3 separate regions of the Homo sapiens genome follow, and all the other regions are reported to be linked to region 1. The links are microRNA targets in miRTarBase. Many come from high-throughput screens and were not tested one by one. Region 1 holds a microRNA gene; each other region holds the end of a gene's coding sequence.

Evidence for each region. The annotated mature microRNA hsa-miR-192-5p reads CUGACCUAUGAAUUGACAGCC and lies in region 1 at 5,633-5,653, shown strand. An mRNA with a match to its seed (bases 2 to 7 or 8) in the 3' UTR can be bound and repressed. Matches are read on the target gene's strand: a 7mer-m8 pairs with bases 2 to 8, a 7mer-A1 pairs with bases 2 to 7 and ends in A, and an 8mer does both.
Region 2: miRTarBase lists BCORL1 as a target of hsa-miR-192-5p. The part of its 3' UTR that is shown has no 7-base or 8-base seed match.
Region 3: miRTarBase lists CCNE1 as a target of hsa-miR-192-5p. The part of its 3' UTR that is shown has no 7-base or 8-base seed match.

The regions. Positions count from the first base shown.
Region 1 is chr11:64,886,372-64,896,855 of GRCh38, reverse strand. It overlaps MIR192 (microRNA 192), which reads left to right and starts at 5,610; the gene lies at 5,610-5,719. It overlaps ATG2A (autophagy related 2A), which reads left to right. Exons shown (of 41, transcript NM_015104.3): 38 at 1-108; 39 at 240-394; 40 at 1,414-1,566; 41 at 1,647-2,310. The coding sequence ends at 1,883. MIR194-2HG (MIR194-2 host gene) reads left to right here and starts at 3,407. Exons shown (of 3, transcript NR_133640.1): 1 at 3,407-3,445; 2 at 4,030-4,266; 3 at 7,516-8,398. MIR194-2 (microRNA 194-2) reads left to right here and starts at 5,417; the gene lies at 5,417-5,501. RefSeq lists a silencer at 8,701-9,060 and an enhancer at 8,894-9,464.
Region 2 is chrX:130,052,922-130,063,405 of GRCh38, reverse strand. It overlaps BCORL1 (BCL6 corepressor like 1), which reads right to left. Exons shown (of 14, transcript NM_001379451.1): 14 at 5,335-7,552. The coding sequence ends at 7,270. Among named protein-coding and RNA genes, the nearest start is that of ELF4, 52 kb to the left of the region's middle. RefSeq lists silencers at 2,508-2,577, 2,598-2,897, 2,918-3,177.
Region 3 is chr19:29,820,274-29,830,757 of GRCh38, reverse strand. It overlaps CCNE1 (cyclin E1), which reads right to left. Exons shown (of 12, transcript NM_001238.4): 7 at 9,910-10,056; 8 at 8,941-9,036; 9 at 8,628-8,762; 10 at 8,407-8,518; 11 at 8,155-8,312; 12 at 6,446-7,103. The coding sequence ends at 6,981. Among named protein-coding and RNA genes, the nearest start is that of CCNE1, 14 kb to the right of the region's middle.

The DNA of each region.
Region 1 (10,484 bases):
ACAAGGTGCTGGGCTATGCCCTCAACGAGTGGCTGCAGGACATCCGCAAGAACCAGCTGCCCGGCCTGCTGGGAGGCGTGGGCCCCATGCACTCGGTTGTCCAGCTCTGTGAGTGTCTAGGTTTGGAAGCCCTCGAAACTGCTTTTACCCTTGGGCAACCTAGAAGCTGCCATTGGGAATAAGAGGAGGAGGTGGGGGCAGGGCAGCCTCGGGTGTCTCTGAGCGCTCCTTCCCCCTAGTCCAAGGGTTCCGGGACCTGCTGTGGCTGCCCATTGAGCAGTACAGGAAGGATGGCCGCCTCATGCGGGGGCTGCAGCGAGGGGCTGCCTCCTTTGGCTCATCCACAGCCTCTGCCGCCCTGGAACTCAGCAACCGGTTGGTACAGGCTATCCAGGTGAGTGGGTGCCCTGTATCTGGGCTGTGCAGGACAGAGCAGCTGGAGCCCTCTGCACCACAGCTCCCTGGTTCTGTCCTCAAAGCTCCTCAGAGTGGGCAGTCTGGGTATGACAGCCCTACTTTATAGAGAAACAGCCACGGAGAGGCTAAGTGACTTGCCTGGGACCTCCAAGCCAGGTCTCCCGAGGCCCACAGGGGCTCCCATGCAGGAGCGGGAGTGCCCCCCAGGCCTTCAGAGCCCACTGTGTCTCCTGCTCATGGCATGTCTTGTAAAGGGGGGTGGAGGACGGCTGTGTTTGCAGACTAAGAATCTGAGGCGCAGAGGCTGCCCTGGTTCATTCAGGCCATACGCTTCGCTAGGCCAGAAGGACCCCAGGGAAGCTGGGGAGCCAGTCTCGTGGGCAGTTGTCAGATGAATTCTGTAGGGGATCGATGGTCCTAGGCGGCTAAGGGGTGAGTGCAGGTGCATGGTGCATTCTGGAACCTGCAAGCTCAGACCCCAACAGGACAGAGGGCAGGGCTCCAGGGGAGGTGGGAGGGATGCATGGGCACCAGGGAGCCCCCGGGAGTGTTCAGTCAGGTGGGAAAGAGTGATGCCAGGTGAGATGCTGGGCAGAGGATCTGGCAGACAGAAGGAAGGATGGGCCTCTGACCATCTGGCAGGGGCGTCTGGGGGGCCAGGCAAGGAGCGGTCAGTCTCAGGCGTGCAGCTGCGGCAGCCATGTGGAACCTGCTGAATGTGGTGGTCAGCAGGAAGAGAGGTTTGGGTTGAGAAGACTTTAGGAAAGTCCCCTGAGGAGTCCCACGTTCCTAGGTTCCCTCAGCAGAGTGGCAGGTGCCTAGGAAGGGGAGGAAGAGTGGGAGGAAGTGGGGAGTGAGGCTGAGCAGGACCCCCTAGGCCAGCACAGTGACAGGCAGGGAGGCTGAGGGCTGGTGGGGTCTCAGACTGTCCTGGGGGCCTGGGGCTGACGTGTGCCCCAGCCAGCTGTCCTCATCCAGTGCTCCCATGTCCCCCAGGCCACAGCTGAGACCGTGTATGACATCCTGTCCCCGGCAGCCCCCGTCTCCCGCTCCCTGCAGGATAAGCGCTCTGCGCGGAGGCTGCGCAGGGGCCAGCAGCCTGCCGACCTGCGGGAGGGTGTGGCCAAGGCCTACGACACAGTGCGAGAGGTGACCAGGCCCCCGCCCTGCCCCAGTCCCCCATGCCCATCTCCTCACACAGACCCCGCCCTGACCTCTGGCTTCCACAGGGCATCTTGGATACAGCTCAGACCATCTGTGACGTGGCATCGCGGGGCCATGAGCAGAAGGGGCTGACGGGCGCCGTGGGGGGCGTGATCCGCCAGCTGCCCCCGACTGTGGTGAAGCCGCTCATCCTGGCCACGGAGGCCACGTCCAGCCTGCTCGGGGGCATGCGCAACCAGATTGTCCCCGACGCCCACAAGGACCACGCCCTCAAGTGGCGCTCGGACAGTGCCCAAGACTGAGCCTGGGGTGCCCGGCACCCAGAGGGTGCTGCCCACCATGCTCCTGAGCCTCCCAAGAGCTGCAGCCCACGGGCCCGGCCCGGCCTGGCCCTTCAGGGGATGGCCACTGTGAAGGACGCCTTCCCAGCCTGCCCGTTGCCAATCTGCTGTGAGAGGGGGGCCTCCCTGCCTTGGGGCCTTAGCCCTGGCTCTGCACTTTTCCTCCGGGGAGAAAGGACACTGCCCCTCCCCCGACCTGGGCCCACACTGCTGCCTTCTCCCAGGACGGAGGCTTTTGGACCCTCGGACCCCATCCCACTCAGCCAAGTGTCTTTCTGTGTCTGGGGGGAGGAGGGGATGATATCCGTGTGGTTCGATGTATTATTTTTAAGCTCCGTGAGTGCGTGGGTCAGTGTCTGCATGAAGTGGAATAAACTGCCCACCGCCAGCCCCCCTCTCAGATCCTCTGTCCCTGTGAACCCTGGCCTCAGCCTTGACCTTGGCCCCGCCCCAGATCCCACCTCTGCACCCAGCACCTCCCATGTCACCACCAGGGGTCGCCATGCCTCCTGGCCTTGCCCAGCAGATCAGGGCACAGGGGGACCCAGAGGCACCCAGCCCTGCACGCCTTCCCCTGGCTCTGGGCTCTGCCTTGCCCCTCCCAGGAGGCTGCCACTCCAGCCCCACTCCTGATGTGGCAGGAGCTACGTGGGGCTGCCAGGGGAGGGAGGGATGGTCCTTGGAGCCCAGCTGACCCTGCCTGGTTGTCACTTGAGGCCACTCGGGGAAGGCTGAGCCTGAGGCATTCTAGATGTTGCTCTCACCATCCCTAGTGGGGGCTTTTGGGGTGGCCCAGGCCTTGGCCCCTTGGTTTCCACTCTGATCTGGGGTCCCAGCTCCAGCACTTGGAGGGGGGAGGGGTGCTGGAGCAGCGCTGCAGCCGGAATCCCAACCCTCACTGCACAAAGCTTTACACAGGACCAGGGAGCGCCCATTGCCCCCCACACATCTTGTTTCTTGTGAGCTGCTCCCATCGCGCTCCTCCCTGCCCTGCTTCCCAGTGGCGCTGCACAGAGGTGGGTGGGTCCATGGGGAAACCAAGGCTCGGGTTGGGAATCAGGGAACCCTCACCTTGCTAGGTTCCGCAGGCCTCTGGGGTTAGCAAAGGTCCCCCAGCCCTGCTCTGTGGCCCCTTCTGAGTGGGGGAGATCTGGGTACTGGGAACAGAGCAGAAGCTTTGTCCCGAGGGACCCTGGGGTCCTGGCTGCCCACGGACAGCTGGGGCAGCAGGCTGGTAAGAGACCAGGAGGGCGAGGCCCTGGAGGAGACAGGGCTGTGGAGACTCGGTGCTGATGCCACCCGGAGAGGCAGATGGGGCCCAGCCTGATGCTTCCTGGACCCGCCCCACCCTGCCCGGGCACAGTCCAGGGCTTCCTGCCCTTCGAACCGCACTTGTGATCAGTATTGACGGTGGTGGGATAATCATTAACCACCACCAGGGGCTGGGTCAACGGCTCAAAAGGCCCTGGGCCCAGGGTGTCCCCACTTCCTCCTTGTGCCCCGAAGGCCAGCCCGGCACTCAGGTAAGAGGCTTCCTGAGTGGTAGGACCCCTGCCGCCCTCCCTGTCCTAGGAGGCTCCTGAACCCAGGCACCTCTCTGAAGGGTGGCCAATCCTGAGGAAGAAAGGGACCTGGACAGCCATGGGGTGGCCGGGACGAGCCCCTTCCTCTCTGTGCCTTGGTTTCCACTGTGGGATAAGGGGGCCTTAGCATCAGCGCTCAGAGCTGTGGAGCCAGGATTCCTGATCGGGCGCTGTCTCTGCCAGGCCAGGGCACTTGGACACCACGCTGCAGGAGGCTGGTCTCGCCCAGGCCTCTGTGGGAAGGGCCGCCAGGCTGAGTGGAGGGCCAGCCACCAGCTACGGTGTCTTCCTTCGCAGGTCTGTCCCCCCAGGCAGAAGGATTCCAGCCCAGGGATCCCCCATCCCACCCTGACTGCATCCTGAGAAGGGGGGACGCCACTTCGGGAAGGTTGTTGGGGCAGCACAGGCCCTGGGGCCCTGCTCTGTGACCTTGGGCGGCCCCCTCTGTCTCTCTAGGCCTGTATGCACCACTGGCAAAGGGGGCAGGGCCCAAGTCTACTCTAAAAGCTCCCCTTTCTCTCCAGAAGCTTTGGAGTCTCCCAAAATGCCTGCTGGGTCTCTGCAGGACTGGCACCTGTCACCGGAACCTGTCTGGGAGGGACGAGAACACGCTTTGCAAGAGGAAGCTCTGCCTCACAGAGCCCTGGGCTCACTCAGGGACCCTGGCCAGCAGCTGCTTCCTCTCCCCACAGCGGAGAGAGACCCAAGGGTCCCAGGGCGGATGCTTCCCACCAGGCCAGCCCAGCGTGCAGGGTGGCCTCGTAAGTCCTGATTGACATATGGACAGTGGTTCAGAGAGGTTACGCTACTTGCTCAAGGTCACCCAGCTCCCAGGCCCCTGCTGTCTTCCAGGCCACTGAGGTCCTAAGCGTCCTTCCAGGCGAGCCACTGCTCACAGCCTGTTCCTCATGTTCTGCGGCAGGTTTGTGTATCTACATCTTTTCCAGTTCCCTGTCGTCCCCCTTCCTACACCTCGTCATCCACTATCCCTGTTTGTTTTCTCTGTTCCTTTCTAGTTCTCTACCTGCTCCTCTTATTTTTATTTGAGACAGGGTCTTTCTTTGTCACTGAGGCTGGAGTGCAGTGGCACAATCCCAGCTCACTGGAGCCTCGACCTCCCAGGCTCAAGTGATCCCCCGCCTCAGCCTCTTGAGTAGCTGGGACCACAGGCATGCATCACCACACCAGGCTAATTTTTTATTTTTTGTAGAGATGGGGTCTCACTGTGTTGCCCAGGCTGGTCTTGCACTCCTGGGCTCAAGAGATCCTCCCACCTTGGTCTCCCAAAGTGCTGGGATGCCAGGTGTGCACCGCCATCCTCGGCCTTACTCTTCTCTTCCTCTCTCAGCCCCTCTGCCTCACTATCCCTCTTTCTGTGCCCTCCCCCACACAGCCCCCCACACTTCTTCTTAGTCTCATCTTCAGCTTCCCATACGAGGCCATCCTCATGAAATCAGGCACTGGGAGGTCCCTGGGGACTGACAAGTGCCAGCTGTCCCTTGCTGTCTCTCTGCCCCATGGCTGCAGCAGGGAGGGTGGGCAAAGGGCAGAGGTGACAGTGGCCAAACCTGAAACTGAGGCCCAGCTCTGGTTGGGAAAGAAACAAGGAAACAAAATAACTTGGGGACAGAGGGCGTGGGGTCATCAGAGCGGGCAAAGGCTGCCCAGGAGTTGTAAATCCGAGCCGCTCCCGGCTTTATGAGGCCGATTTGGGGTTGAGCCTGGACTTTGCCCAGGAAGGAGTGCTGGCAGCACACGGGGCGCCAGGTGTGGGCCCCGGATGATAAGAAGCCTCGGTGAAAAGACCATGGACCTGGGGCCACGAAGACTGGGGAGCCCAGGTGAGTGGGCATGGGACACTCTCCAGAGCCCTGCCGAAGGCGGACGCCAGGCAGGGCCCCGGTCTCCAATTGGTTCCCGCCCCCTGTAACAGCAACTCCATGTGGAAGTGCCCACTGGTTCCAGTGGGGCTGCTGTTATCTGGGGCGAGGGCCAGTACCCACGAAGAAGGAGAGGCAGGTGCTGGCCAGCAGACCAGCCAGGACTACCGTGGCGACGCTCCCAGGCCAGATGGTGGCGGGTAGTGGAGGGCTGTCGGTGGGCTGCCGAGACCGAGTGCACAGGGCTCTGACCTATGAATTGACAGCCAGTGCTCTCGTCTCCCCTCTGGCTGCCAATTCCATAGGTCACAGGTATGTTCGCCTCAATGCCAGCCACCAGGACCTGCAGGGATAGGGGAGGGCCGGGGGTGTCCAGCAGTCAGCAGAGATCCTGCGACCCCAGTGCAGCACTCATGGTCCCACCTCCCTCTGTCTCATTCCCCGTGAATGAGCCTGAACAGCTTCAGTCCTGCCCCTGCCCTGCCTGCCCTGTGGCACCTCTATGCTTTGCCCATGCTGTTCCCTTGGGCTGCAATACTCTTCCTAGCTTATTTGCCAGGCTCACTCTTACTAACCCTTTCAAGCTCTGTCCAAGCATTTGCTGCCTCCAGAAGGCCTTATTGAAGCTTCTAAGTCCCCACCTGGGCACCCCCACACAGTGCTGCCGCAGAGCACTGCCCTCTCGGAGCCCCGGTGCTGGTTTCTGCTTATGTCTCGCTCCTCTCCCCATCTGTGAGCTCAGTTCCCAGCCCAGGCGCGTGCCCAATAAATGTTTGCTGAACCAATCCTGAGCCTCTGTCTTGCACCCTGAGGAAGCACCCACCGACATGCAGTGTGGCCAAGGGGGGCTGAGTGCTCTAGGCCCAGTGTTTGTGCTGGAGCCCCCCCACCCAGGATGGGGCCCTGAGCCAGCCTCCCCATCTGCTTCCTACTCTCCCCTCCTTTGCCAGTCTCATCTCCCTGGAGCACAGCCCTGTGGTTGGTGGAGCAGCTTCTCCAGCCCCTAGGATTCCTAAGAGGGCCCAGGACCCCAGCTGCTGGTAGAGGAAGAGCAGCCAACCCAGGACAGGACAGCTGACCCCACCCCTGTCCCGCCTCCCACAACAGCCTCATTTCCACCTATTTCTTTGTGGTGTTTGTTTGTTTGTTTTGAGACAGAGTCTTGCTCTGTTGCCCAGGCTGGAATGCAACAGGCTTCCTCCCAGGAGGAAGCCTCCCCTCCTGGCATGATCTCAGCTCACTGCAACCTCTGCCTCCTGGGTTCAAGCGATTCTCCTGCCTCAGCCTCCCAAATAGCTGAGATTACAGGCATGCACCACCATGCCCAGCTAATTTTTGTGTTTTTAGTAGAGACTGGGTTTCACCATGTTGGCCAGGCTGGTCTCGAACTCCTGACCTCAGATAATCTGCCCACCTCGGCCTCCCAGAGTGCCGGGATTATAGGTGTGAGCCACCGCGCCCAGCCCCACCTGTTTCTTATACAACGGGGTTCTGAGGAAATTTTCCTTTTTTTTTTTTTTTTTTTTTGAGACAGGGTCTTGCTCGCTTTGTCACCCAGGCTGGAGCGCAGTGGTACAATCACAGCTTGCTGCAGCCTCCACCTGCCAGGGCTCACACAGTCCTCCCATCTCAGCCTCCCAAATAGCTGTGACTACAGGCACGTGCCACCATGCCTGGTTAATTTTTGTATTTTTCGTAGAGATGGGGTTTCACCATGTTGCCCAGGCTGGTCTCAAATTCCTGGCCTCAAGCAGTCCTGCCTCAGCCCCCCAAACTGCTGGGATTACAGGCATGAGCCACTGTGCCCTGTCAGAATTTTTCATTTGAATAAAAAGGTTTCTGGTACTACAAAATAAAATTTGTAAAATGGGAAATAGAGACCTAGGAATAAATGTCAAATTGCTTAATAACAGGCGTTGGCTATTGAGCCCTTTCTGTCTGCTGGGCACGCACATCCAGGACCTGGTCCTCCTGGCATCCATCATGAACCTGTTTGGGACAGGAGGACACAGGCTCAGAGAGGGTGCACATTTGCTGAAGTCACAGAGCAAGTTGGACCTTCTCCTGGGGACTGTAGGCAGCCAACAAACATCTGGCCCCTAAGACACTGTCTCTCTCCCCTTCCCACAGGCAGCTCTGCTCACACTGTCCTGGCTGCTCTGAATCCCTGGGCCCCGATTGGCCCCTGCCGTGGCCCAGCTCAGCAACCCCTCCCTGCAGACCATCCCATGACTCTGCAGGCGCTGCTCCCCTCTCTGCCCACACCCCGGCTTCGTGGGCCTCTCCCGCCACCCTTATCTCATTCCCTACAGAGTTAAGGAGCCCTGTGTGCTTATCTAATCCTGTGCTAGTTTCAGACTCCTTGAGGGCAAGGTCCATGACTTACTCATCCTCCCTGGCTGCTTCCCCCACCCACCAGCATAGTAGGTGTTCAGGATACATGGGCTGGATGGTAGGGCCCTGGACTCTAACCCTCTTGGGGCTGTCAGGCCTCAGACTCAGAGCACTGGCATAGGGTGAAAGGGGAGCAGACAGCAGCCACCCTGCCCTGGGGGTCCTCCTGCATCTGCCTCTGCAGAGCACTGCGATCCCACAAAGGCCTGCGAGGGCTATTGGAGACCTGTTCCAATGCATGAGCAAGGCGGATCCAGCACCCTCCCCCAGCTCCTTGAGCCCACTGACCTGTGTCCTTTACCCAGCAGGCCCTGGGCCCATGCACATTTCCCTGGCCTGGGTCTCACCTCCAACCCCTCTCAGAACTCCTCAAGACCTGCCCAAGGGTCACTCCCTCGCGGACACCTGCCTGGCCCCCCGCCCCGCCCCCCATTACCCCACTCACTGGCTCCCTGGATGCTCTGTGGCTGGGATGTTAGCGCCCCCATCATGCCCCATCACCCACACCGGGCTATTTCCCCCACCAGCCTGAAAGCCCCCAGGAGTGGCGGCCACTGACTTTTTTCCTGTAGCCTCAGACTCAAAGGAGGCACTTAATAAATGCACACAGAAGGACTGACCTTGTGCATGAGCAAAGTTGCTTAGGGAGGGAGCCTAGACACAGTGGGGCGGTCAGCACAGAGCTGGCGGTGGGAGGCCTCAGTAGTATTGTCTTTGTCCCATCGTCCACACCACACGTGTGTGAAACGCTACGCTGACAGAGGCCCTGAGAGGTTGTGCAGATTGACCGTACGCCAGCCTCAGAGAGAGAAGGCCCAGGCGGGGAGGAGTAAAGCCTCCCTGGGAGAGGTGAGTGTGAGGTCGGCGTTTGCTGAGGTGAACCCCAGAAACAGGTCGTGATCACTGGAGGAGGAAGGAATGCCAGGGGCAAAGATGCAGAAACCGGACGGAGGCGCGGGGCGGGCGGGGACAGCTTCCTCTTCTGCAAGGCTTACTCCCGGTGGCCACCACTAGGGGGCGCCCCGGGCACCCCTCCCAAGCGGGGCGGGGCCAACCCTCCCCACCGCGCGGCTCCCAAGGCCTGGGGGAGCAGCCCCTGGGTTCGCCTTCCCCGGGCCGCCTAGAACTGCGCCTGGCCTGGCCAGGACACTGTCCTGGGCCTAGGGCACAGCCCAGGTGCCAGCGTCCTACACACAGTTGCGGGTCCCAGGCGCGCACTGCCTTACCCAAGGTGGCCCTGGTGGGGCTCTTCCCGCTGTGGTGTGTATAAAACATCACTGTATAATGTATATTCATAGAATTCACAATGAGTCCCCATGTAACAACCTGCAGAGCCCCCAAATATGCCCTTCCAGGTCCCCCCCGCCCATGGTCAGCACAGTTCTGAGTGTTAAGGTAATCACTTCCTCTCCTTTCTCTGGGATTTACTACCCCGTACACTTTCCCAAACAGTCTGCGAGCATTTTGTCTGGCTTTCTTGTTATTAATGTAAATGGAATCACGGTGCCGTGTCTGGCTGAGTCTCATGCAGTTGATGGAGCCGAAGCTTCTTCACTCTTGTTCACTGCTGTATAGTGAAGAGAACACTTGGGGTTATTATGAGCGCTGTTATTATGAGCACTGTTGGGATTATAATGAGTATTGTAATGCACAGATTCTACTGCAGGGTGCTTCTCCAGCAGGGGCTGTCAGGTCATGGAGTGGTGGACCTAACACTGGACCAGGCCACATGGTGTGCCTAATAAAGGACAGCTGGGTACAGGCCTTTTTTTGATTTTGTTTTTCTTTTTTTTTTTGAGACGGAGTCTCATTCTGTTGCCCAGGAATGCAGTGGCTTGATCTCAGCTCACTGCAAGCTCTGCCTCCCGGGTTCAAACGATTCTCCCGCCTCAGCCTCCCGAGTAGCGGGGATTACAGGCACCCACCACCATGCCCAGCTAATTTTTGTATTTTAGTAGAGATGGGGTTTCACCATGTTGGCCAGGCTGGTCTTGAGCTCCTAATCCCAGGGGATCTGCCCACCTCGGCCTCTCAAAGTTCTGAGATTACAGGCGTGAGCCACCGTGCCCGGCTGTCTTTCTGTTTTTCTTTTTGACAATGATGACAGCTTCAGAAAAGTTGCAAGAAAAGTACGAACAACATCCATATACTGTTTATTTTGATTCATTGACAGTTAACACTTTGCAATTATATATATATACACATATTTATATATATACATATATATACACATATTTATATATATACATATATATACACATATTTATATATATACATATATATACACATATTTATATATATATACATATATATATATACACATATTTATATATATATACATATATATACACATATTTATATATATATATACATATATATACATATTTATATATATATATATACACATATATATATATTTTTTGAGACGGAGTTTCTCTCTTATTGCCCAGGCTGGAGTGCAATAGCGCTCACTGCAACCTCCGCCTCCCAGGTTCAAGCAATTCTCCTGCCTCAGCCTCCCGAGTAGCTGGGATTACAGGCATGCGCCACCACACCTGGCTAATTTTTGTATTTTTAGTAGAGACGGGGTTTCTCCATGTTGGTCAGGGTGTTCTCGAACTCCCGACCTCAGGTGATCTGCCCGCCTCGGCCTCCCAAAGTGCTGGGATTACAGGCATGAGCCACCATACCCGGCCTGCAATAAT
Region 2 (10,484 bases), not on the chromosome of region 1:
CTGCCACCACTCATACCCCAAGGCACTGCTCCAGTCAAACTGATGGATTTGCTGGCCTGTGAACATGCCTCTGTTTACAATTTCCAAACTCTGTGCTTTTGCTCTTATTATCTACTACATATATTCTAAGCATTTTAAACCTGGAAACCAAGATCCTCCATTTATCTTTTACCTGCTCTAGGCAATACAGACAAACTCAACATTATTTACACACTCCTGTGTTTTCTTAATGAATATTCTTCCCTTCTATGTATCTTTTCCTTTAGAAATACAATCCATTGGCCATGCGCGGTGGCTCATGCCTGTAATCCGAGCACTTTGTGAGGCCGAGGCAGGCAGATCACGAGGTCAAGAGATCGAGATCATCCTGGCCAACATGGTGAAACCCCGTCTCCACTAAAAATACAAAAATTAGCTGGGCATGGTGGTGTGTGCCTGTAGTCCCAGCTACTCGGGAGGCTGAGGCAGGAGAAACACTTCAACCCGGGAGGCAGAGGTTGCAATGAGCCGAGATCGCGCCACTGCACTCCAGCCTGGCGACAGAGTGAGACTCCATCTTGAAAAAAAAAAAAAAAAAAAAAAGAAACGAAAAGGAAAGAAAGAAAATCCATCCACAGCCAGGCACAGTGGCTCACGCCTGTGATCCCAGCACTTTGGGAAGCTGAGGTGGGCGGATCACCTGAGGTCAGGAGTTGGAGACCAACATGGCCAATATGGCGAAACCCCATCTCTACTAAAAATACAAAAATTAACCGGGCTTGGTGGCACGCACCTATAATCCCAGCTACTGGGGAGGCTGAGGCAGAGAATCCCTTGAACCTGGAGGTGGAATTTGCAGTGAGTCGAGATTGTACCTGGGTGATCAAAGCAAGACTGTCTCAAAAAAAAAAAAAAAAAAAAAGAAAAGAAAAAAAGTACAATCCATCCTTCAAGATCTGATTGGTTCCACTCAATCAGAATGTCCTTCCTATCCTGCTAGTACCAATTAAATTGTGTCCCTCCTTCAAGACTCGATTCATGGACTCTGCCTCCCCAGACCAGTCTGTCCTAAGTGAGTTATTTAAAACTTATTGCAATTGCCACTCTTTCAGCAACTGATCATGAACACCCTGTGACATCTATTATAATGCAAACTGTTACTTAAATCTTCAATGACCTGTACCTATTTAGTGTCCCCAATTAGCACATTACCTCCTTGAGGAGTGGGAGGGACTGTATCAACCACGTAACATGGCACAGTACAAAGGATCAAGGTAATGGTTACTGATGGAGCCGGTGGGAGATGGGGACCAAACTTTGAGGTAGGTGACCTCTGACCTCCCCTCTGCACAGGCACTCACCCCAGGTGCTCCACTGCTCTGGGCCTGCCCTCCCTGGCTCAGTGCCCTCATGGTATCCCCAACCCCACCCCCCCATCTTAGCACTCAAAATTTGTTACTATTTTGAACATCCTCTACCCCTAAAGCAACTTCCCTGTCCAGTTTCTTTCCTACTCCAAGTGTGAAACTAGCTAAACCAATTAACCTGTGCTGATACAGTTATGGGAGAGGGCTAGAGGAGAACCTCAGGAGACAGGTTCATTTTAACCAGAGTCATGTGGCAGTAAGTCTCTGCCTTTTCTTGGTTTAATGGAGTCAGGAGTCAAGAGATGACCCTCATCTCCCAGCAGCTGATATGTTACTCCCTCCTCTGGGTTCCCACAGCACTTTGTTTTCTTTATTTTTTTGAGATAGAGTCTCCCTCCGTTGCCCAGGCTGGAGCGCAGTGGTGCGATCTTGGGTCACTGCAGCCTCTGCCTCCCGAGTTCAAGCGGTTCTCCTGCCTCAGCCTCCCAAGTAGCTGTGACTACAGCTGCGTGCCACCACGCCCGGCTAATTTTTGTATTTTTAGTAGAGAACGGGTTTCACCATGTTAGCCAGGCTGGTCTCGAACTCTTGACCTCAAGTGATCCGCCCACCTCAGCCTCCCAAGGTGCTGGGATTACAGCCCTGAGCCACCTCACAGCACTTTGTAAATACCTCTTATGGTAGCACTTAGCACAGTACAGTTCTTTAATTACGTGTTTATGTAGGGTTCCCCGCCAATAGGCTGTGAGCTCCTCAAGGACAGGGACTGTGTGTTAGTCACTGATATATCCCTAGTGCCTAGCACACAGTAGGTTCTTAATAAATGCTTATTGAAAGAAGGAACTGGTCCTGATTTTAATTCTGAGACTTCTGCCCTATGCTATGGCAGGCAAGAGGAGAGGGAGGAGGACAATCCACACTTGGGAGCTAAGGCAGCTTTCTGCCCGCTCCTATAACACTGCAGGCGGCTACTTCCTTTGCCCCTGGAGTGTTAACAGACATCCCCGGATCACAGGGTCCATGAGGAGCCCAGGGCTGCTTGCCAGCTGTGCGTTGCTGTCACCAGGTGCCACGTGCAACTCCCGAACTCCCGCCCTTTGCTGCTGCCCGCTTCCAGGGACTGCCTCGCCACTATTTCCTCACCCCTGGGTGGGGCTGTGCGGTGGAAGTGTCAGCTCCGGTGGGTGGGGCGGGACAAGAAGTTATTCTGACGGTCACAGGCCTTTCTGATCCCATCTTGTACTCCAAAAGAGGCAGTTGCCTCCAGCTCTGAAGCCGCTGGACCTGGGGTGAGTGAGCTCCTTCCCCTCCCAGACTGAGGTCCCAGCCTCCGAGAACTTCGGGCCCCGGCGCGCCGGACGTGGAGGCCGACGTCCAGCAGGTGGCGCTGTCGAGCCAGCGATGGCGGGAGAGTGGCCCGGCGGGGCCCGGGAAGGGAGGGGCAGCCAGGGTTGGGCCTACCGTCCCTGGCGGAGGCGGCCGCGGCCGCGGCTGGCGTCTTCCGGTCCCCCGATCTTGCCCCTGCGCCTGCAACTGTCCCCGGATGGTTCTGGCCGCCACCAAAGCCCTCCGCTGCTCCGGAGCTTCGAACTTTCCCCTCGACCCCAGCCCCCTTCACTTTCCAGGGGGAATTTAGCCGGCCGCCGAATGCGCTCCCCCATTGGCCAGCCGCGCTCTGGCCCCGCCCCCGGCGCCCCCTCCCTCAGCCTCGCGGACCAGCAGGTGAGCACGCGGAGTCGCAGTCACCCGGCCTGCCCTCCCCTCCCCTCGCGCGCCGCCGCCTTCTACCGTGAAGCGGGAGAGCGATCGAGGCGCCCCAGACAGCCGTTTGCTAGCGGAGGGACCTGACCGTCCGCCGCACGAGCCCGGCTCCCAAGGACCGGCGCGGGGCCTAAAGACGTCGCCCCCAGAGGCCGGACGCTGCGGCTCGGCCGACCCCCGCGCGGTGGCAGCCGGAGCGCTAGGGAAACGAGTGGAGCCCCGGCCCGGATCCTGCTGCGGGATCCAGAAGGCCCGAGCACTTCGCGTCCCCCTGCCCAGCAGTTGAGCAGACGCCCCTGGGGCGGACCCCACCCTTCCCAAACACACACACACTGGTCTTTGCATGGGCAGGACACAGTTAAACACCCACCAGGCCTCCCGGTTATTGGGTTAGAGTATGGACCGAGCAGGAGTTTACTGCCCCATTCACCACCGCCCCCAACCCCACCTACCCCAAATAGGGATGCGGAGACTATCCCTCCTCCCACCAAGACTTGAACAGAGCCTCTCTTTCAAGCCCAAAGAGCGTTCTGATAAGACCCTCATTAACCATAGGTTCGTGAGCTCGGCATGAAGGAGGAACTAATTTTGGCTAAACAGATCTTTATGGTCCTCAGTGTGATGCTCTGTCAGTAGGTGGGTACATTGGCCTCCATTTGGCTGATGGAGCAATTAAGGCTGGGAAAGATTAGGTTCTCGCCCAAGGTCAGCCTAGGTAGTTAGGAGTGGTGCTGGCTCTTTCCTCTACACCATACTAAAAGGACTGGGAGATCATTTAATAAGAGGCCACCAAGCCATCCTCACCCCAATCCTGACCGGGGATGTAGATTTAATGCCACGGCCCATACTTCCTGCCTTGATCTTTCCAACCTGGCAGAAGGGCAGTGGGACTCCAGGTAAGCCGTGGGCAAAGAACCCCAAAAGCAATAAAACAATCTGCTGTTTGGTTTTGCTTTTAACTCCCCTTGTATCCAAGCCTTTGCTCAGATTGTCCTCTCAGTTCAAACACTCTTCCCTGCCACCTCTAATTCCTGCATTTCTACTTTTTAAAGTATCAACTAGGCATCACCTCTTCTAGGATGTGTTCCCAGGGCCCTTGCCCATGCTTCTGAGCTCCCATAGCATCCTGGGACTAGTTGAATTCTTATACTCACCACATGGCTTTATAACCTATCAACATGTCAGATTTCTTGACTTAACTGCAAGTTCCAAGCACAGGATCGACCTGAATTCAGAACCACTGTGGGCTTGTTTGGGAATCTGACAAAGGTGGCTATTGCATAGGGCCTTGGGATCAGAAAGTGGGGAGAGGACGGCCAATGAGGAAGATTAATGCTATGGTTCAAAGAGGATGATGCTTGGACCTGGGTCGAGCCAAGCTTCTGAGGCTTGAGCAAAGACAGCAGCTTAGAGTTCACTCCTGAGGACGGCTGGACTCCAGCCAGCCAGACGCACAGATCCCTTCGCCTCTACACTCTCTAACAGGGCTCTCCAGACTCGAAAGCCACAGTGAGAAGCCCTAAGAGAATAGAGCTTCAAAGGGCCTCATCCCAGGCCTCTCGAACATCCTCTTCCTCTCAGTCACTGGTGCATTCTGGAACCAGCAATCACAAGAATCATAGCTTCTACCACTGTTTTTCAGAAGTGGGAGGAAAAACTGCAAAATCCAGGATGGGCATCTTGCCTTCATGGTAGCTCGGTGGCAGGAAAACAGAACCATGGAAGGCCTGCACCGTGGGTGGGGAGCACTGGCACAACAGTGAGGGCAGTGATGAGGCCATGCAGCCAGATGCCACCTCGGCAGGGTGGCCTAGGGCAAGCAGGGGACTTCCTTAAGGAGGCTTATTCCCACAGCCACCACAGAGAAGGCTACTTCCTCCAACCCTGCTACTCCTATGTAAACAAGGACTGCCCAGGCACCTGCTTCAACCCCAAACCAAAGCAACAGGAGCCAGATGCTCCATTTGCCCCCACTGGCCCCGCCCCCAGGATTTGCCCCTTTCTTTTTCTTTCCAGATCGTGACCCAATGTTCACTAGCCACTCCACCTTGCCTTTATTCATCGTACCCCTTGGGACCCACAGCTGCAAAGCAGGATGGCGGGGGCTCCCCATTTACTGAATCACAATGCCCACCTTCTGAAACCACCAAAAAGTCCCAAAGGGGAGGAGAGAAAAAGAGAGACGGGAGAGAAAAAGAGAGACGGGAGACAGAAGCCCTGACACAGGTTTTTCAGTATGCAAGTGTTTTTGACTCCACAGCCAGTTGCTTAAAATGAAACATAAAGGGCAGCCAGAATATACACCCAAATGCGAAAAAAGGAAAGGCAAACAGAACATGAAATAAACTACACAATACCAGGAACCCCAACAAAACCAACAAATTAAAGTCCAAAACCCCTCAACTTTATATATATATATGTATATATATATGTATTTTTTTTTCTTAAAAAGGGAAAACAACTGTTCAAAACCAACTGGGCAGTATGGTGGGGGTGGGGAGCAGTCCTACAGAAGGGGGCCGAGAACTTCCCCCCCAGGAACAAAGAACAAACACAATACAAAGAAAATAACCACCAATGCTCCCGCATGGCTCAGGAGCCTCTAGAGAACAGATTGTCCCATCCTCAAACTGGCTTTTTTTTTTTCCTTTTTTTTTTAATCTTTTTTTTTTCCATTTTCTTTTTTGTTGTTGTTGTTTTAGCACCTGTACAATAAAACTGTACCATCTCCAACCAGAGCCGGCCACGGCGAGGCCCTCCTGCCTTTGGATGGTACATACTCTACAAGGATTGTTCGGAAAAATAGCAATTGGTAGAAAAATAAGAGTGGGAGGGACAATGCCACAGAGGGGGCGGGGACAGGGAAGCAACCCAAGCTCCTCTCTCTCTCTCACTCGACAAACCCAGCGCTGGAGGCCCAGAGGCCAGGGGGAGGCCAGGTAGGGATACCACTCAGCCCCAGGCCCCCAGGCATGAGTGGAGCAAGGGCTGGAGACCACTTTCCTGCCCTTGCCTAGGAAACAGCTGACGCCTGGATTTCACATCCGGCAGTGAGTCCCAGAGCCCTCTGCAGATTCCCAAGGAGAATGAGGGGCTGAGGGAGGAGGTGGGAGGAGAGGAAGGAAAGGGGTGCTGTGAGTCTCAGAAGGGGCAGGGATGGGGGTGGCTGAGGGCTGGGAGGTGAGAGGCTCAGTATCTTGAGACAGGGAGGCCAGAACGGGGTGGGAGAGTGGAGGCAGGAACAAACTCGTATTGTGCACTCTGAGGGGGGCAGTGAAGAAGGCGTGAGGAGGGGGGCCACCCTCACCCCTCAGATCCCTTCTCCACGCTCCTTTATTAGAGTAACTTATTAACCCCTCACCTCACAATCCTCCCCTCCCTGTCAACACTAATCTCAAGATAGCGGGGCTGCTGCAAAGGGCGGGAATGGGTGGGTGGGGGAGCACCAAAGCCTCAGGATTTACCCCCAAGCCCCCAGCCCTGGGCCAGCAGCAACCAGCTTCGTTAGTCACAAGTCCATGTTCCCCCACCCCATTCCACCTCACCCCCTCCCCAGTGGGGGAAAAAAACACCAGGGAATAGCTTTGTCAGAGCTCATCAACAAAGAAAAAGAAAAGGAGGTACAGAAAGTCCCTCAATACAACAAGTTGTCTCAAATCGTCACAGTGATACAGACTTATCAGAAACCAATGAAACAATACAAATTAAATACTAATAAAATAAATACTACAGAAGACAGAAGAACACAGGGGAATGGAGTTGGGGGGCGCTCAGAGATCTGGGATTTTCTCATTTCTCCTCGGGACAGGCCAAGGCCATCCAGGGCCCAGGTTTGGTCTTGGTCATGAACAAGGAGGCCAGTCCAAGGGACCCCGGCGCCACCTCCCACCACCCCCGGGACCTCTTGTCCTCAGACATGGAGTTCAACTTTCCACCCCCATCAGCAACCACGATAACAATGACGACGACAGGGAGATGAGAACTAATTGTAACCAAAAAAACAAAAACAGTCCAGTCGCTAATGCTGGCATTGATAAGGCGGCTTCTTGTTGGTCCGTATTATTGCCTCATTCTGCAGTCTGGTGCTCGGTCGGGGAAAGACAAGGAGGTGGGGGAAGGGCGAACTCGGAAGGAGAAAGAAGAGGAGGGGCTGTTTTCCCGGTCAACTGTTGCAAGACTGGAATTCCACCTCGGACCCTAGGAGCCGAAGTAGGTCTGGCTCGTACCGCACCAGCTCCACAGTCTCAGAGGAGCCTGGGGGGGATCTGTCGTCCAAGCCTCCAGGCCTCTCGGCAGGGGTCAGCAGCTGACTGGAGGCCACCTGCCTGTAGAACTCGGCCTTGGGCATGGTGGTGATTTCAAAGTGCGGGAACCGGGCCTGAAAGATCCTCGAGGAAAGCTTCAGCCTCTTCAAGACATCGGAAAAGAGGAACCAGTTGCAGGGCCTGCAAAGGCAAGGATGGGAGTTATTGAAGGAGGCTGGAGGAAGCGGTGGGGGCACCGACCCAGAACACTCTGCAAAGCCCACAAAGGCTGCACGACCATCAATGTCTCCCATTATAACTCACTGCCAGTCTGGCTCCCCCGTCCCCTGCTAAACCACAGGCTCCTTGGGTATAGCTGAGGCAAATGTCTTCTCCTGTCCCCTGCAATGCCTGGCCCGGCTTTCAGCTAAATGGTGAGCACGCAATCAGTGACCACCTCTTCCAAAATAACACAAACAGGAGGCAAAGGGGCATTCTAGAACCTAAAACTCTTAGCAGGCTTCTTGGGGACTTAGCCTGCGCCCCTGTGACCTGGCATTTGCCATCTGCTGGGACCAGTCTTTCCTCCGACTCCCGCCCCTGCCAACCCTGGCTGCCTTCCCTTCTCCTGTTCTTACTCTTGCTTCCCTGGCCTCCTTGCTCTCCAAGATCTTCCCCAGCAGAGGGGGAGCCGTGGAGAAAGGCCTAAACTGCGGGTAATCCAAAAGGCATTTCTCTTTGGCTCTGGAATGCATTAGACAAGTTTTTTCTCCAGCAGCAGCACCATCGTTTCTGCAGGGCCAGAGCTCACATTACAGAAAGTGGAGTCTGACTTTGCTGAGCACACCCGACTGGGTGGCAGCCTGGGGACAGCTGGGAGGGGTGCTGGAGAGGCCGATCCCGGGCCAAACGCTTACATTGACTAATGCGGGAAGAAACGCTGCCTCCCCACATTAGTGGTCCCAGTTCACAGGGTTTTCCCTCCTCACTATTCCACTACCCCAGCTCCAGCCTTTGCCACTTCTGGCCTGGGCTCTGTCTTGTCAGCCTCCTAACCGGTTTCCCTTTGCCAAGAGTCACTCTTCTGCACCCCCACCCACCCTCACTGGATCTTCTGTTACCATTACAGTTTTCTTTTCTTTTTTTTCTTTTTCCAAGACGGAGTCTCTAGGCTGGAGTGCAGTGGCGCAATCTCGGCTCACTGCAACCTCCACCTCCCAGGTTCAAGCAATTCTCCTGTCTCAGCCTCCTGAGTAGCTGGGATTACAGGCACCCACGACCACGCCTGGCTAATTTTTGTATTTTAGTAGAGATGGGGTTTCACCATGTTGGCCAGGTTGGTCTCAAACTCCTGACGTCAAATGATCCACCCGCCTCAGCCTCCCAAAGCGCTGGGATTACAGGTGTGAGCCACCATGCCCGGCCACTAGCATGATATTATATGAGACCTTCTAACCTCTTCAGCCCAATGTCCACCCAGTCTCTCTCTTTCTCTGTCTCTCTCTCACACACACACACACCCCACATTGTATCCCCCACCCTACCAAGCACCAGCCACATGATAAAGGACTCCCCCTACTTTCTGAACTTGTATGTTTCAGTGCCTTGCTCCATCCTTCTCTCCTTCCAGGCCCAGCTCAGGTAGATACTGTATCACCTGTGAAACCTTCCCCCGGTGTAACTCATTGTTCTTCCATCTCCCATGGTCTCGTGGCATTTGATTCACATCCCTATTGTAATACTACTAACAAAACCCATTTCTGAAAGGGTTGCAAAAGAACCTTAAACTGTGGTTCACTCTGCAGCATAGCAATGGGGGCTCAGGGTGGACTGGAACTTTTTGCATTTGACACCCTTCTGAAACTGTTGGAGTTTTTTATAATAAATCTGCTTAGGACATTTTGTCTTTTATTAGAGTTAATTATATACTTGTCTGTCTACTGCACTAGATGGTGGATTCTTTGAAGGTCCCCAGGGTTTGACCTGGTGCAGCTGTTTAAGACATGTTTATAGAATCAAATGTTCTGTTCCAGCACCTTAAACATCTAACCAGACCCACGATCCTTATCCCTAAAATGGAACATTTCTCCCAAATGACAGCAAGCTCTTATCTCACATGAGTAGGAAATGGAGGGCTCTGGGTTAAGAAAAGGGGACTACAGATATCATACACTTGGACCATCACTTCCAAAGAATGGAAAAAAGCCCTGAGAACATTCACACTAGTGATGAGAATTCAGTCTTGCTTTGGTGATTCAGAAGGCCCTTCTGCACCCCATAGGGCCTCAGAGGCATCACTCTACGCTAGCACCCCCACCCCCAACTTCTTGAAGAACAGACATTTTCACAGTGTGCTGCAGCTGTGGGGAAAGGCAGCTCTAGAGCGAGCGCTAGAGGATGTCACGTCAGGAAAACCAGCTTTGCTGGTACCGGGCTCTGGGCTAACCACGTGCCTGCCACTCAGCTCGCTGAGGGGCACGCAGCCCTCCGTGGCCCGTGTTCTGTCTGCACCTAATGCAGACTACCCTGGTCCTTTTACTGCCTGAAGCCCAAGATCCTGTTTCAGAGAGGGAGGTGCTGAATACATCGGAGGAATTAATTAACCGTGCAATACTATATCCCAGAGGCCCCGCCCTGTCCTCAGGGATCAGCTTATGCCCAGAAGAATAAGGACCAAAAGCCCCTGAAACTTGATCCCTACTAGTGCCATCATACATGCTATTTTTATTCTGATCAGGCTATGCGTGTGGGGTGGTGGGGGGGAGGGCAGGGGATGCAAAGAAACTGTGGTCTAATGGTTAGAGCCCTAAACAGAGGCTCTCACTTAAAGACCTCCTCATCCATCGTCTACCTAGCTCCCCATCCTGTGCACATCATGCTGGTTCACTGACTTATTTTATTATTTTATTTTATTTTGAGACGGAGTCTCACTCTGTCGCCCAGGCTGGAGTGTAGCAGGCAATATCAGCTCACTGCAACCTCCGCCTCACAGGTTCAGGCGATTCTCCTGCCTCAGCTTCCCTCGTAACTGGGATTACAGGCACCCGCCACCATGCCCGCCTAATTTCTGTATGTTTAGTAGACGAGGTTTCACCATGTTGGCCAGGCTGGTCTGGAACTCCTGGCCTCAAGC
Region 3 (10,484 bases), not on the chromosome of region 1:
ATTATATTTAAGACTCTATTGTCGCAGGCGGATTAGCTAATGCTTGATTTTAAGTATAGGCTTCTAATGCTATTACTCCTGGTTAACTCTACCTGGCAGGTAAACTTGTGGAACAAATGACTGCATTGCTTGAATAACATATTTGATCAAACAGGACAATTCTTTCAAAAATTGAGTTCTCTGTGGCAATTTGAGACCTGTAATCAGCAAATTAGATGATTACAGCAGGGATAAAAATAGTCTTCTAACAATGTCCAAGGTATAAATGTGATTTGAATTTCAAAATGTGGAACATGTGGTAGGAAAATGCACGGTTGGGTAAATATGACTAGACATTATCAGATTTGATTTCTCTCTCTAGCCCTGCTCAGAGCTAGAGCCTAATTTTGCCCAAATAAACTCCAATCTCGTTTGTGTCTGAGTTAGAGGATGGACACGTATTGGGTGCCATGCTCTGAATCTTAAAGGGCTCCATGGCTCTACCTGCCTTAGAAACTAAAAGTCAGTGTGAACCTCTGCATCATGTATTTATCACATGGTACCAAATAACCATCATGAAAGAGTAAGCTGTCCGTGTTCCACACAGGGAAGACGGCATTGGAAAACCCTTGACTCCCACCACCTGAGGACCAGGGTTTTTTTGTTGTTGTTGTCGTCAGGCACAGTGGGCAGAGAAATGACAACAACTCTGGCGGACTCTAGCAAGTGAATTCTTTTTTGGGAGACAGGGTCTCACTCTGACGCTTAGGCTGGAGTGCAGTGGCACAGTCATGGCTCACTGCAGCCTCGGCCTCCCAGGCTCAGGTGATTCTCCCATCTCAGCCTCCTGGGTAGCTGGTACTACAGGCATGCGCCACCACAAAAAAATTTAAATTTTTAAATTTTTTGTAGAGATGGAGTTTTGCCATATTGCCCAGGCCGGTCTTGAACTCCTGAGCTCAGGCAATCTGCCCACCTTGGCCTCCCAAAGTGCTGGGACTAGAGGCATAAGCCACTGTGCCTGGCCGCAAGTGAATTCTGTGAGCTGAGGCGGGATATGAGGATATGGTCTGCTCAACCACAGTTCAGGGTCTCCAGGGTTGGTGAATCACTCGCTTTTTCTCCATCTCTAACCCGAGAGTTAGATCAGGGGCCACATCACCTCCTTTCTCTGGTCCTTCTTGCTAACACATCTCCTCAGGACATCTGTTCACCCAAGTTGACTGAGCTGCCATTTTCACCCCAGTGTCTCTTGTGGCCTCATCTGGCTTTAGCTGAATAGCAGAACATAAGCGACTTGGTCAAGGGGTATTTGCAGCCAATGAGAGAGAGGCCAAAGCAGGGATTACTAGCAAGTGGAAAAAGCTCCTCTTACAGGGGAATTTTGATTTCTACTTACTAGCAGCTCTTAGGGTTCCTGAGTATAGACATGATTGATTAATATGGATGTCATTTACCCATTCAGGACTTAGCCTTTATTAGCACCAATAATTAAGAGCTGCCTGTGACAACACTGCCACTTAAAAAGCTTTGACTTCCAGAAACACAGCATTCCAACAAGTTACATATAAGGCATTCTTATTTCAGCATATTCTAGCACCCTCTCTAATACGGTGGGTGGCTAAATGACCTATGAATTAATATTTACCTCAAATGTGTTTGTTTTTTTTTAGGTGTCACCCAGGCTGGAGTGCAGTGGCATGATCTCAGCTCACCACAACGTCTGCCTACTGGGTTCAAGCGATTCTCCTGCCTCAGCCTCCTGAGTAGCTGGGACTGCAGGCGCCCAGCACGACACCTGGCTAATTTTTTGTACTTTAGTAGAAATGAGGTTTCACCATGTTGGCCAAGCTGGTCTTGATCTCCTGACTTCAAGTGATCCTCCCACCTCGAATCTCCCTAAATGCTGGGATTACAGGCCTCAGCCATTGTGCCTAGCCTCAAACGTACTTTCAAATTTGCTGTTACCTCAATGTGTCAAGCTCTCAAATTTATGAAACTTTGGAAATAGAAATTTTTTAGTGCCATCTTTTTGCTTACAAAATGCCAAATGTAGGCCGGGCACACTGGCTCACACCTGTAATCCCAGCACTTTGGGAGGCCAAGGCAGGTGGATCACCTGAGGTCAGGAGTTCGAGACCAGCCTGGCCAACATGGTGAAACCCCCTCTCTACTAAAACTACAAAAATCAGCAGGGCGTGGTGGTGGGTGCCTGTAGTCTCAGCTACTCGGGAGGCTAAGGCAGGAGAATCGCTTGAACCTGGGAGGCGGAGGTTGCAGTGAGCCGAGATCATGCCACTGCACTCCAGCCTGGGTGACAGAGTGAGACTCCATCTCCAAAAAAAAAAAAAAAAAAGAAAATGCTAAATGTAGGCCGGGCAAGGTGGCTTACGCCTGTAATCCCAGCACTCTGGGAGGCTGAGGTAGGTGGATTACCCAAGGTCTGGAGTTCGAGACCAGCCTGGCCAACATGGTGAAACCCCGTCTCTACTAAAAATACAAAAAAAAATTAGCCGGGCATGGGCAGGTGCCTGTAATCCCAGCTTCTCAGGAGGCTGAGGCAGGATAATCACTTGAACCTGGGAAGCAAAGGTTGCAGATAAGGCTTGTCTCAAGCTCCTGGCTTTAAGTGATCTGCCCAACTCAGCCTCCCAAAGTGTGGGGATTACAGGTGTGAGCCACCACGCCCAGCCAAAAACTCACTGCTTTTTAAGACTAGAACATCTCTGCCTAAAGTGAAGAAATAACTGGCTAGTCCTATCATTTGACTAAATACCATTACATGTAGATTTACAATGCGTTTATTAGGATAACTGTAGTATTAAAACTTGCCAGAGGGCCGGGTGCGGTGGCTCACACCTGTAATCCCAGCACTTTGGGAGGCTGAGGCGGGCGGATCACAAGGTCAGGAGTTCGAGACCAGCCTGGCCAACATGGTGAAACCCCGTCTTTACTAAAAATACAAAAATTAGCCGGGTGTGGTGGTACGCGCCTGTAGTCCCAGCTACTCAGGAGGCTGAGGCAGGAGAATTGCTTGAACCCAGGAGGCAGAAGTTACAGTGAGCTGAGATCGCGCCATTGCCCTCCAACCTGGGTGACAAAGTGAGACTCCATCTCAAAAAAATAAAATAAAATAAAAATAAATAAATAAATAAATAAAACTTGCCAGAAAAGCCGGCGCAATTGCTCATGCCTGTAATCCCATCACTTTGGGAGGCCGAGGAGGGAGGATCACCTGAGGTCAGGAGTTCGAGACCAGCCTGGCCAACATGGAGAAACCCCGTCTCTACTAAAAATACAAAATCAGCTGGGTGTGGTGGCGCCTGCCTGTAGTCCCACCTACTCAGGAGGCTGAGGCTGGAGAATGCCTTGAACTTGGTAGGTGGAGGTTGCAGTGAGCCGAGATTGTGCCACTGCACTTCAGCCTGGCAACAGAGCGAGACTCCGTCTCAAAAAAAAAAAAAAAAAAAAAAATCTGCCAGAACTACATCAATGTCAAAAGTAAAGTCTCTCCAACTTCATACAAATATGGTTACAGATTTTATTTTATTCTTTTTGAGATGGAATCTTGCTCTGTCGCCCAGACTGTACTGCCATGGTGCCATCTTGGCTCACTGCGTATGGTTACGAATTTCAAATGGCTGCTTTTTTCTTTAGATTTTTGCCAAATGAGATAAAATACCAAGTTGAAAATAAGCAGTATTTATTTGTTCATTCACCCTTCCTTGTATGCACTAGCACACGTGATGAAGCACTGTTAGTCAAACACAAGACTCCAAAAGACCACCATTTGAAGAATGTTCAGTAAAAAGTCATGTGAGTGGCCGGATGCGGTGGCTCACGCCTGCAATCCCAGCACTTTGGGAGGCCGAGGCAGGCAGATCACCTGAGGTCAGGAGTTCAAGACCAGCCTGGCCAACATGATGAAACCCCATCTCTACTAAAAATACAAAAATCAGCCGGGTGTGGTGGCGGGCACCTGTAATCTCAGCTACTTGGGAGACTTAGGTGGGAGAATCTTGAACAGGGGGAAGGTGGAGGTTGCGGTGAGCCAAGATTGTGCCACTGCACTCCAGCCTAGGTGACAGAGCGAGACTCCCTCTCAAAAAAAAAAAAAAAAAAAAAAAAAATCATGTGAGCGGCCAGACGTGGTGGCTCACGCCTGTAATCCCAACACTTTGGGAGGCTGAGGTGGGCAGATCACGAGGTCAGGAGTTCGAGACCAGCCTGGCCAACATGGTGAACCGCCGTCTCTACTAAAAGTACAAAAACAAAGGTCACATGAGCTGTACACGAGGCCTGTAAGTGGGCAGCAATGATTAGCAAGGCACTTGGTGACTCCATCAGTGCTCAGCGAACAGGCTGCATCATGCGCTCAGCTGACATATGACTCTACTTCGCATTTTTTTTTTTTTTTTTGAGATGGAGTTTTGCTCTTGTTGCCCAGACTGGAGTGCAATGATGCGATCTCAGCTCACCGCAACCTCCGCCTCCCAGATTCAAGCGATTCTCCTGCCTCAGCCTCACGAGTAGCTAGGATTATAAGCATGTGCCACCACACCTGGCTAATTTTTTTTTTTTTTTTTGTATTTTTAGTAGAAATGGGGTTTCTCCATGTTGGTCAGGCTTGTTTTGTACTCCCAACCTCAGGTGATCCGCCCACCTCGGCCTCCCAAAGTGCTGGGATTACAGGCGTGAGCCACTGCGCCCTGACTTTTTTTTTTTTTTTTTTTTTTTATGAGATAGAGTCTCACTCCGTCACCCAGGCTGGAGTGCAGTGGCACGATCTCGGCTCACTGCAACTGCTGCCTCCTGGTTCAAGTGATTCTCCTGCCTCAGCCACCCCACTAGCTGGGATTACAGATGTGTGCCACCACGCCTGGCTAATTTTCTTTTCTTTTCTTTTTTTTTGAGATGGAGTTTTGCTCTTGTTGCCCAGGCTGGAGTGCAGTGGTGCAATCTCGGCTCACTGCAACCTCTGCCTCCCGGGTTCAAGGGATTCTCCTGCCTCAGCCTCCCGAGTAGCTGGGATTATAAACATGTGCCACTACACCCAGCTAATTTTGTATTTTTAGTAGAGATGGGGTTTTTCCATGTTGGTCAGGCTGGTCTTGAATTCCCAACCTCAGGTGATCTGCCTGCCTTGGGTCCCAAAGTGCTGGGATTACAGGCGTGAACCACCATGCCCAGCCTTAATTTTTGCATTTTTACTACAGATGGGGTTTCACCATGTTGGGTAGGCTGGTCTCCAACTCCTGACCTCAAGTGATCTGCCCAACTCAGCCTCCCAAAGTGCTAGGATTACAAGCGTGAGCCACACGCCCAGCCACATTTTCTTCTTTTCCTTTTTTTTTTTTTTGAGACAGTCTCGCTCTGTTGCCCAGGCTGGAGTGGTGGCGCGATCTCAGCACACTGCAAGCTCCGCCTCCTGGGTTCATGCCATTCTCCTGCCTCAGCCTCCTAGGTAGCTGGGACTACAGGTGCCCGCCACCATGCCTGGCTAATTTTTCTATTTTTAGTAGAGACGGAGTTTCACTGTTAGCCAGGATGGTCTCGATTTCCTGACCTTGTGATCCGCCCACCTTGGCCTCCCAAAGTGCTAGGATTACAGGCATGAGCCACCGCACCCAGCCTCATTTTCTTCTTAAAAGCAGTTTTAGGCTACTATGTTAAAAGTTCTCCAAATAAAAATTCACTTATTCTTTAGGCTAAGATTTCGGTAAGGGGAAAAAAAAAAAAGCATTAAATCATGCTAATTCCAGATTCCTTATGGCCTTTAACCAGTCCTAGGAAGGAAGTTACACCTAGGAATCCTCTTCGGTGTGGACATTACCTCATCACTACTACTACTGATGGCCAACAAACCTGGTGTGAGCAGCCACCAGTGCAGGGCGTGGTGAGACAAATACCAGGTGGACTCCTCACTTCCAGCTCAGGGGGCACCAGGAGGCAGACAGGCTGCACCTGAAGCCCACGTCTAAAGTTTCCTTTCCATCAAATACATTGAAAAATGTATTTGACCAAAAGAGTTAAGACTCAAGGCTGGGTGTGGTGGCTCACACCTGTAATCCCAGCACTTTGGAAGGCTGAGATGGGCAGATCACCTGAGGTCAGGAGTTTGAGACCAGCCTGGCCAACATGGCAAAACCCCATCTCCACTAAAAATACAAAAATTAGCTGGGTGTGGTGGCACACGCCTGTAGTCCCAGCTACTTAGGAGGCTGAGGCAGGAGAATCGCTTAAACCCGGGAGGCAGAGGCTGCAGTGAGCCAAGATTGTGCCCCTGCACTCCAGCCTTGGTGACAGAGCGAGACCCTGTCCCTGTCTCAAAAAAAAAAAAAAAAAAAAAAAAAAAAAAGAAAGACTTGAGCCTCAAGAAGTATGAAGTCAAAAAACAGAAGTTGATATAACCACAATTAAAGCTGACTGCTACCTTAAGTTACCAGACATAGCTCATAAAACCAGCTGTCTCAAAAACAGTATTATCTTTATTAAAAAATGGATAGATATAGCAGCACTTACAAAACAGTTCATCAAAGGCATTGTACACTGTCAACTGATAATGTGGAGAGGGCAGCCCCCTGCCCAGCTGGCTATGGGCTCTGCACAACGCTTGCCCGCAACCACCTGCTCCACTTGGTACAACGGAGCCCAGAACACCTGCGAGGAGAGCCACGCCACCGTGGCCCTCCACAGCTTCAAGCTTTTGTTGTTGTGGGAGTCCCTTAGGTCAAGTAGCACCTTCCATAGCAGCATCGGGAGCACGCACTGGTGTCTGGAGGTGGCTGGTGTACTTGACCCACTTATTTAAAAAAAACCTATAAGCATTCAATAAAAAACACTTTGCCCTGTTTGATGCCATCCACAGAAATACTTCTGTTGTGGAAGAAACACTCTTCCATTCAGATATCTGTAAAAGCAAACGCACGCCTCCGCTGCAACAGACAGAAGAGAACGTGGAGCAGGCGCGCAACTGTCTTTGGTGGAGAAGGATGGGGTGGTCACGCCATTTCCGGCCCGCTGCTCTGCTTCTTACCGCTCTGTGGCGGGGTGAGGAGCCCACTGGGGAGAGGAGAAGCCCTATTTTGTTCAGACAACATGGCTTTCTTTGCTCGGGCTTTGTCCTGTTGGTAAGAATAAAAGGGACAACACATTAGAGTAGAACATATCCTTGGGCTTCAATTACCATAGGCTTTTTCTTTTTTAATTTTTAAATTTTTTTTTTTTCTCAAGATGGAGACTTGCTTTCTCATCCAGACTGTAGTACAGTGGTGGGATCTCGGCTTACTGCAACTTCCACTTCCAGGGTTCAACCGATTCTCCCGCCTCAGCCTCCCAAGTAGAGTAGCTGAGATTATAGGCACCCGCCACCATGTCCAGCTAATTTTTGTATTTTTCATAGAGACAGGGTTTCGCCATTTTGGCCTGGCTAGTCTTGAACTCCTGATATCAGGCGATCTGCCCGCCTCCGCCTCCCAAAGTGCTGGGACTACAGACATGTGCCACCATGCCTGGCTAGTTTTTAAATTTTTTAGGGACAGGGTCTCCCTATGTTGTCCAGGCTAGTCTCAAACTTCTGAGCTTAAGCAGTCCTTCTGCCTTGGCCTCCAAAAGCCACTGTGTCTGGCCACTATGTCTTTTTCTACGGAGGTGAGTGAAAGAAAAAAAAATATCAAAGAGCACTTTAAAACTCTATAGTCTATATGATAGTGAGATACAGCATCAATTTGCCAGGATTTTTCTTTTTCAATTAATTAAAATTGGAGTTTTTCAAGGATATTTGGGGCCTGCCTGAAGAAAAGTGAACAGGTTATTTAGGCAGTTTTTTTTTTTTTGAGACATAGTTTCGCTCTGTTGCCCAGGCTGGAGTGCAGTGGCGTGATCTCAACGCACTGCAACCTCCGCCTCCCGGGTTCAGATGATTCTCCTGCCTTAGCCTCTCGAGTAGCTGGGACTACAGGTGCCCACCACCATAGCCGGCTAATTTTTTTATTTTTAGTAGAGACAAGGTTTCACCATGTTGGCCAGGCTGGTCTTGAACTCCTGGCCTCAAGTGATCGGCCCACCTCGGCCTCCCAAAGTGCTGGGTTTACAGGCCTGAACCACCGCGGCTGGCCTATTTAGGCAGTTTTAAGAATTTGGCCAAGAAGGACTGAAAGAAGGAGCAGCACTGACCAGCAAATCCAAGCTGTCTCTGTGGGTCTGTATGTTGTGTGCATCTTCATCAGCGACGCCCCTGAAGTGCTTCAGTTTTGAGCTCCCCGTCTCCCTTATAACCATGGCAAATGGAACCATCCACTTGACACAGTTCTCTATGTCGCACCACTGATACCCTGCAGTGAAGACATCGTGGGCTTAATCTGAGGCTGACAACTGGATGTAAGCTTAGTACACCTTGTTTGTGCATGCACTGGAAAGCCAACTTACCTGAAACCTTTTGCATCAATTCAGATGACGAGAAATGATACAAGGCCGAAGCAGCAAGTATACCATAAGGAAATTCAAGGCAGTCAACATCCAGGACACAGAGATCCAACAGCTACGGAGAAGAAAAGAACGCTGAGATGGATGCCACCACACGCCTATTCTAGAGTTCCTCACTCCAGCTGCAGGGAAGGTGGCCCCACGGACGTGATGGAGCCACTTACCTCTGCAATCTGTATAAAGATTTGCTGGGGATACTGCGGCAGTAGCACTTCATGTAAGTCATTTAGATATGCAACCTGCATGTATACATTCAGCCAGGACACAATAGTCAGGGGACTTAAACGCCACTTAAGGGCCTAAAGGAAAACAGAGAGAAAAGAGACCGATGATTGAGAAAAGAAGTTCAAAATGCAGCCATGTTCCATGCCACAATGTGTCCAGCTGGAGAACACCTCCCAGAGGCACTCACACTTCAGGTGGAAAAGATCTGCCGTACGCATTTAAAAAATGGCCGGAAAATTCACTGGAACCCACCTTCATAATCATTAATTCCATGGTGAGAATTTCATCTCCTGAACAAGCTCCATCTGTCACATACGCAAACTGGTGCAACTTTGGAGGATAGATTTCCTGAAAGGAAATAAAAGATGGCACTAGCACCAAAGCCAATCTCTAACAGTCTCAATTTATAATGCATCCAAAATGACTTCTCAGTACCCTGGCATGGAAAGAGAGAGGGCGCACTGATGGAATTAACACAGAAGCCACACCAATGGTTGTAAAAAAAAAAAAAAAAAAAAAAAAGAACACAACTCCCACCCACCATTAAATAAATGGATGGAACTTTGACTCATTGTGGGTACTCTTGAAATATCCCCTTTTCAGTACCTTTAACACATTTGAAAGTTGGGCCCATATACCCTTTGATAATCATACACAAATTTTTAATCTTTTCTTTTTTCTTTTAGACAGAATTTCCCTCTGTTGCCCAGGCTGGAGTGCAGTGGTAGGATCTCGACTCACTGCAACCTCGGCCACCTGGGCTCCAGCAATTCTCTTGCCTCAGCCTCCCGAATAGCTGGGATTACAGGCACGTGCCACCACGCCTGGCTAATTTTTTGTATTTTTAGTACAAATGGTATTTCACCATGTCTCAAACTACTGGCCTCAAGTGACCCAGCTGCCTTGGCCTCCCAAAGTGCTGGGATTATAGGCTTGAGCCACCAACCCGGGCCCAAAATTATTATCTTAGTTCAAAGTTCATTTTTTTTTTTGGCTCAATGTAACTACATGAACCTAGGTCTTCCATACCCTCACTACTTTTCTCTTCCTGGTCACTTTCCAGCCTTTTTTTCTTTTTGGCATGTGTCTTAACTTTACAGGGTAGCAAATCAGAAAAATTTAGGATGAGTGCTATAGGCTAAGCGCCAACCTCTTCCCCCAATCTCAGTGGAGCTCGAGAAATAACACACATTATAGAACAAATATTTGAAAATTATTTACCTCAAGTTTGGCTGCAATAAATAAAGATGAAATCCCAATAAGCTGTAAAAGAGTTTTTACAACATTTTCTTGTGTCGCCATATACCGGTCAAAGAAATCTTGTGCCAAGTAAAAGGTCTCCCTGTGAAGTTTATAGACTTCACACACCTGAAAACATATTTAGTAAGTTTTAGCACAAGTAAGTTTTACTTGAGGGAGGGGAAAAAAAAAAAACTTGTAATGACTTTGGTGAAGGAAAATATAAAATGCAAAGTTCCTGAACTCAACAATTGATAGTTTTTTGTTTTTTTGTTTTTTTTTTGAGGTGCCTTATTCTGTCACCCAGTCTGGAAAGTAGTGTTGTGATCTTGGTTCACTGCAACCTCCAACTTCCAGGCTCAAGCGATTCTCTTGCTTCAGCCTCCCGAGTAGCTGGAATTACCAGCACCCGCCACCATGCCCAGCTAATTTTTGTATTTTTAGTAGAAATGGTATTTCACCACGTTGGCCAGGCTGGTTTTGAACTCCCGGCCTCAAGTGATCCACCTGCTTCGGCCTCCCAAAGTGCTGGGATTATAGGGATGAGCCACTGTGCC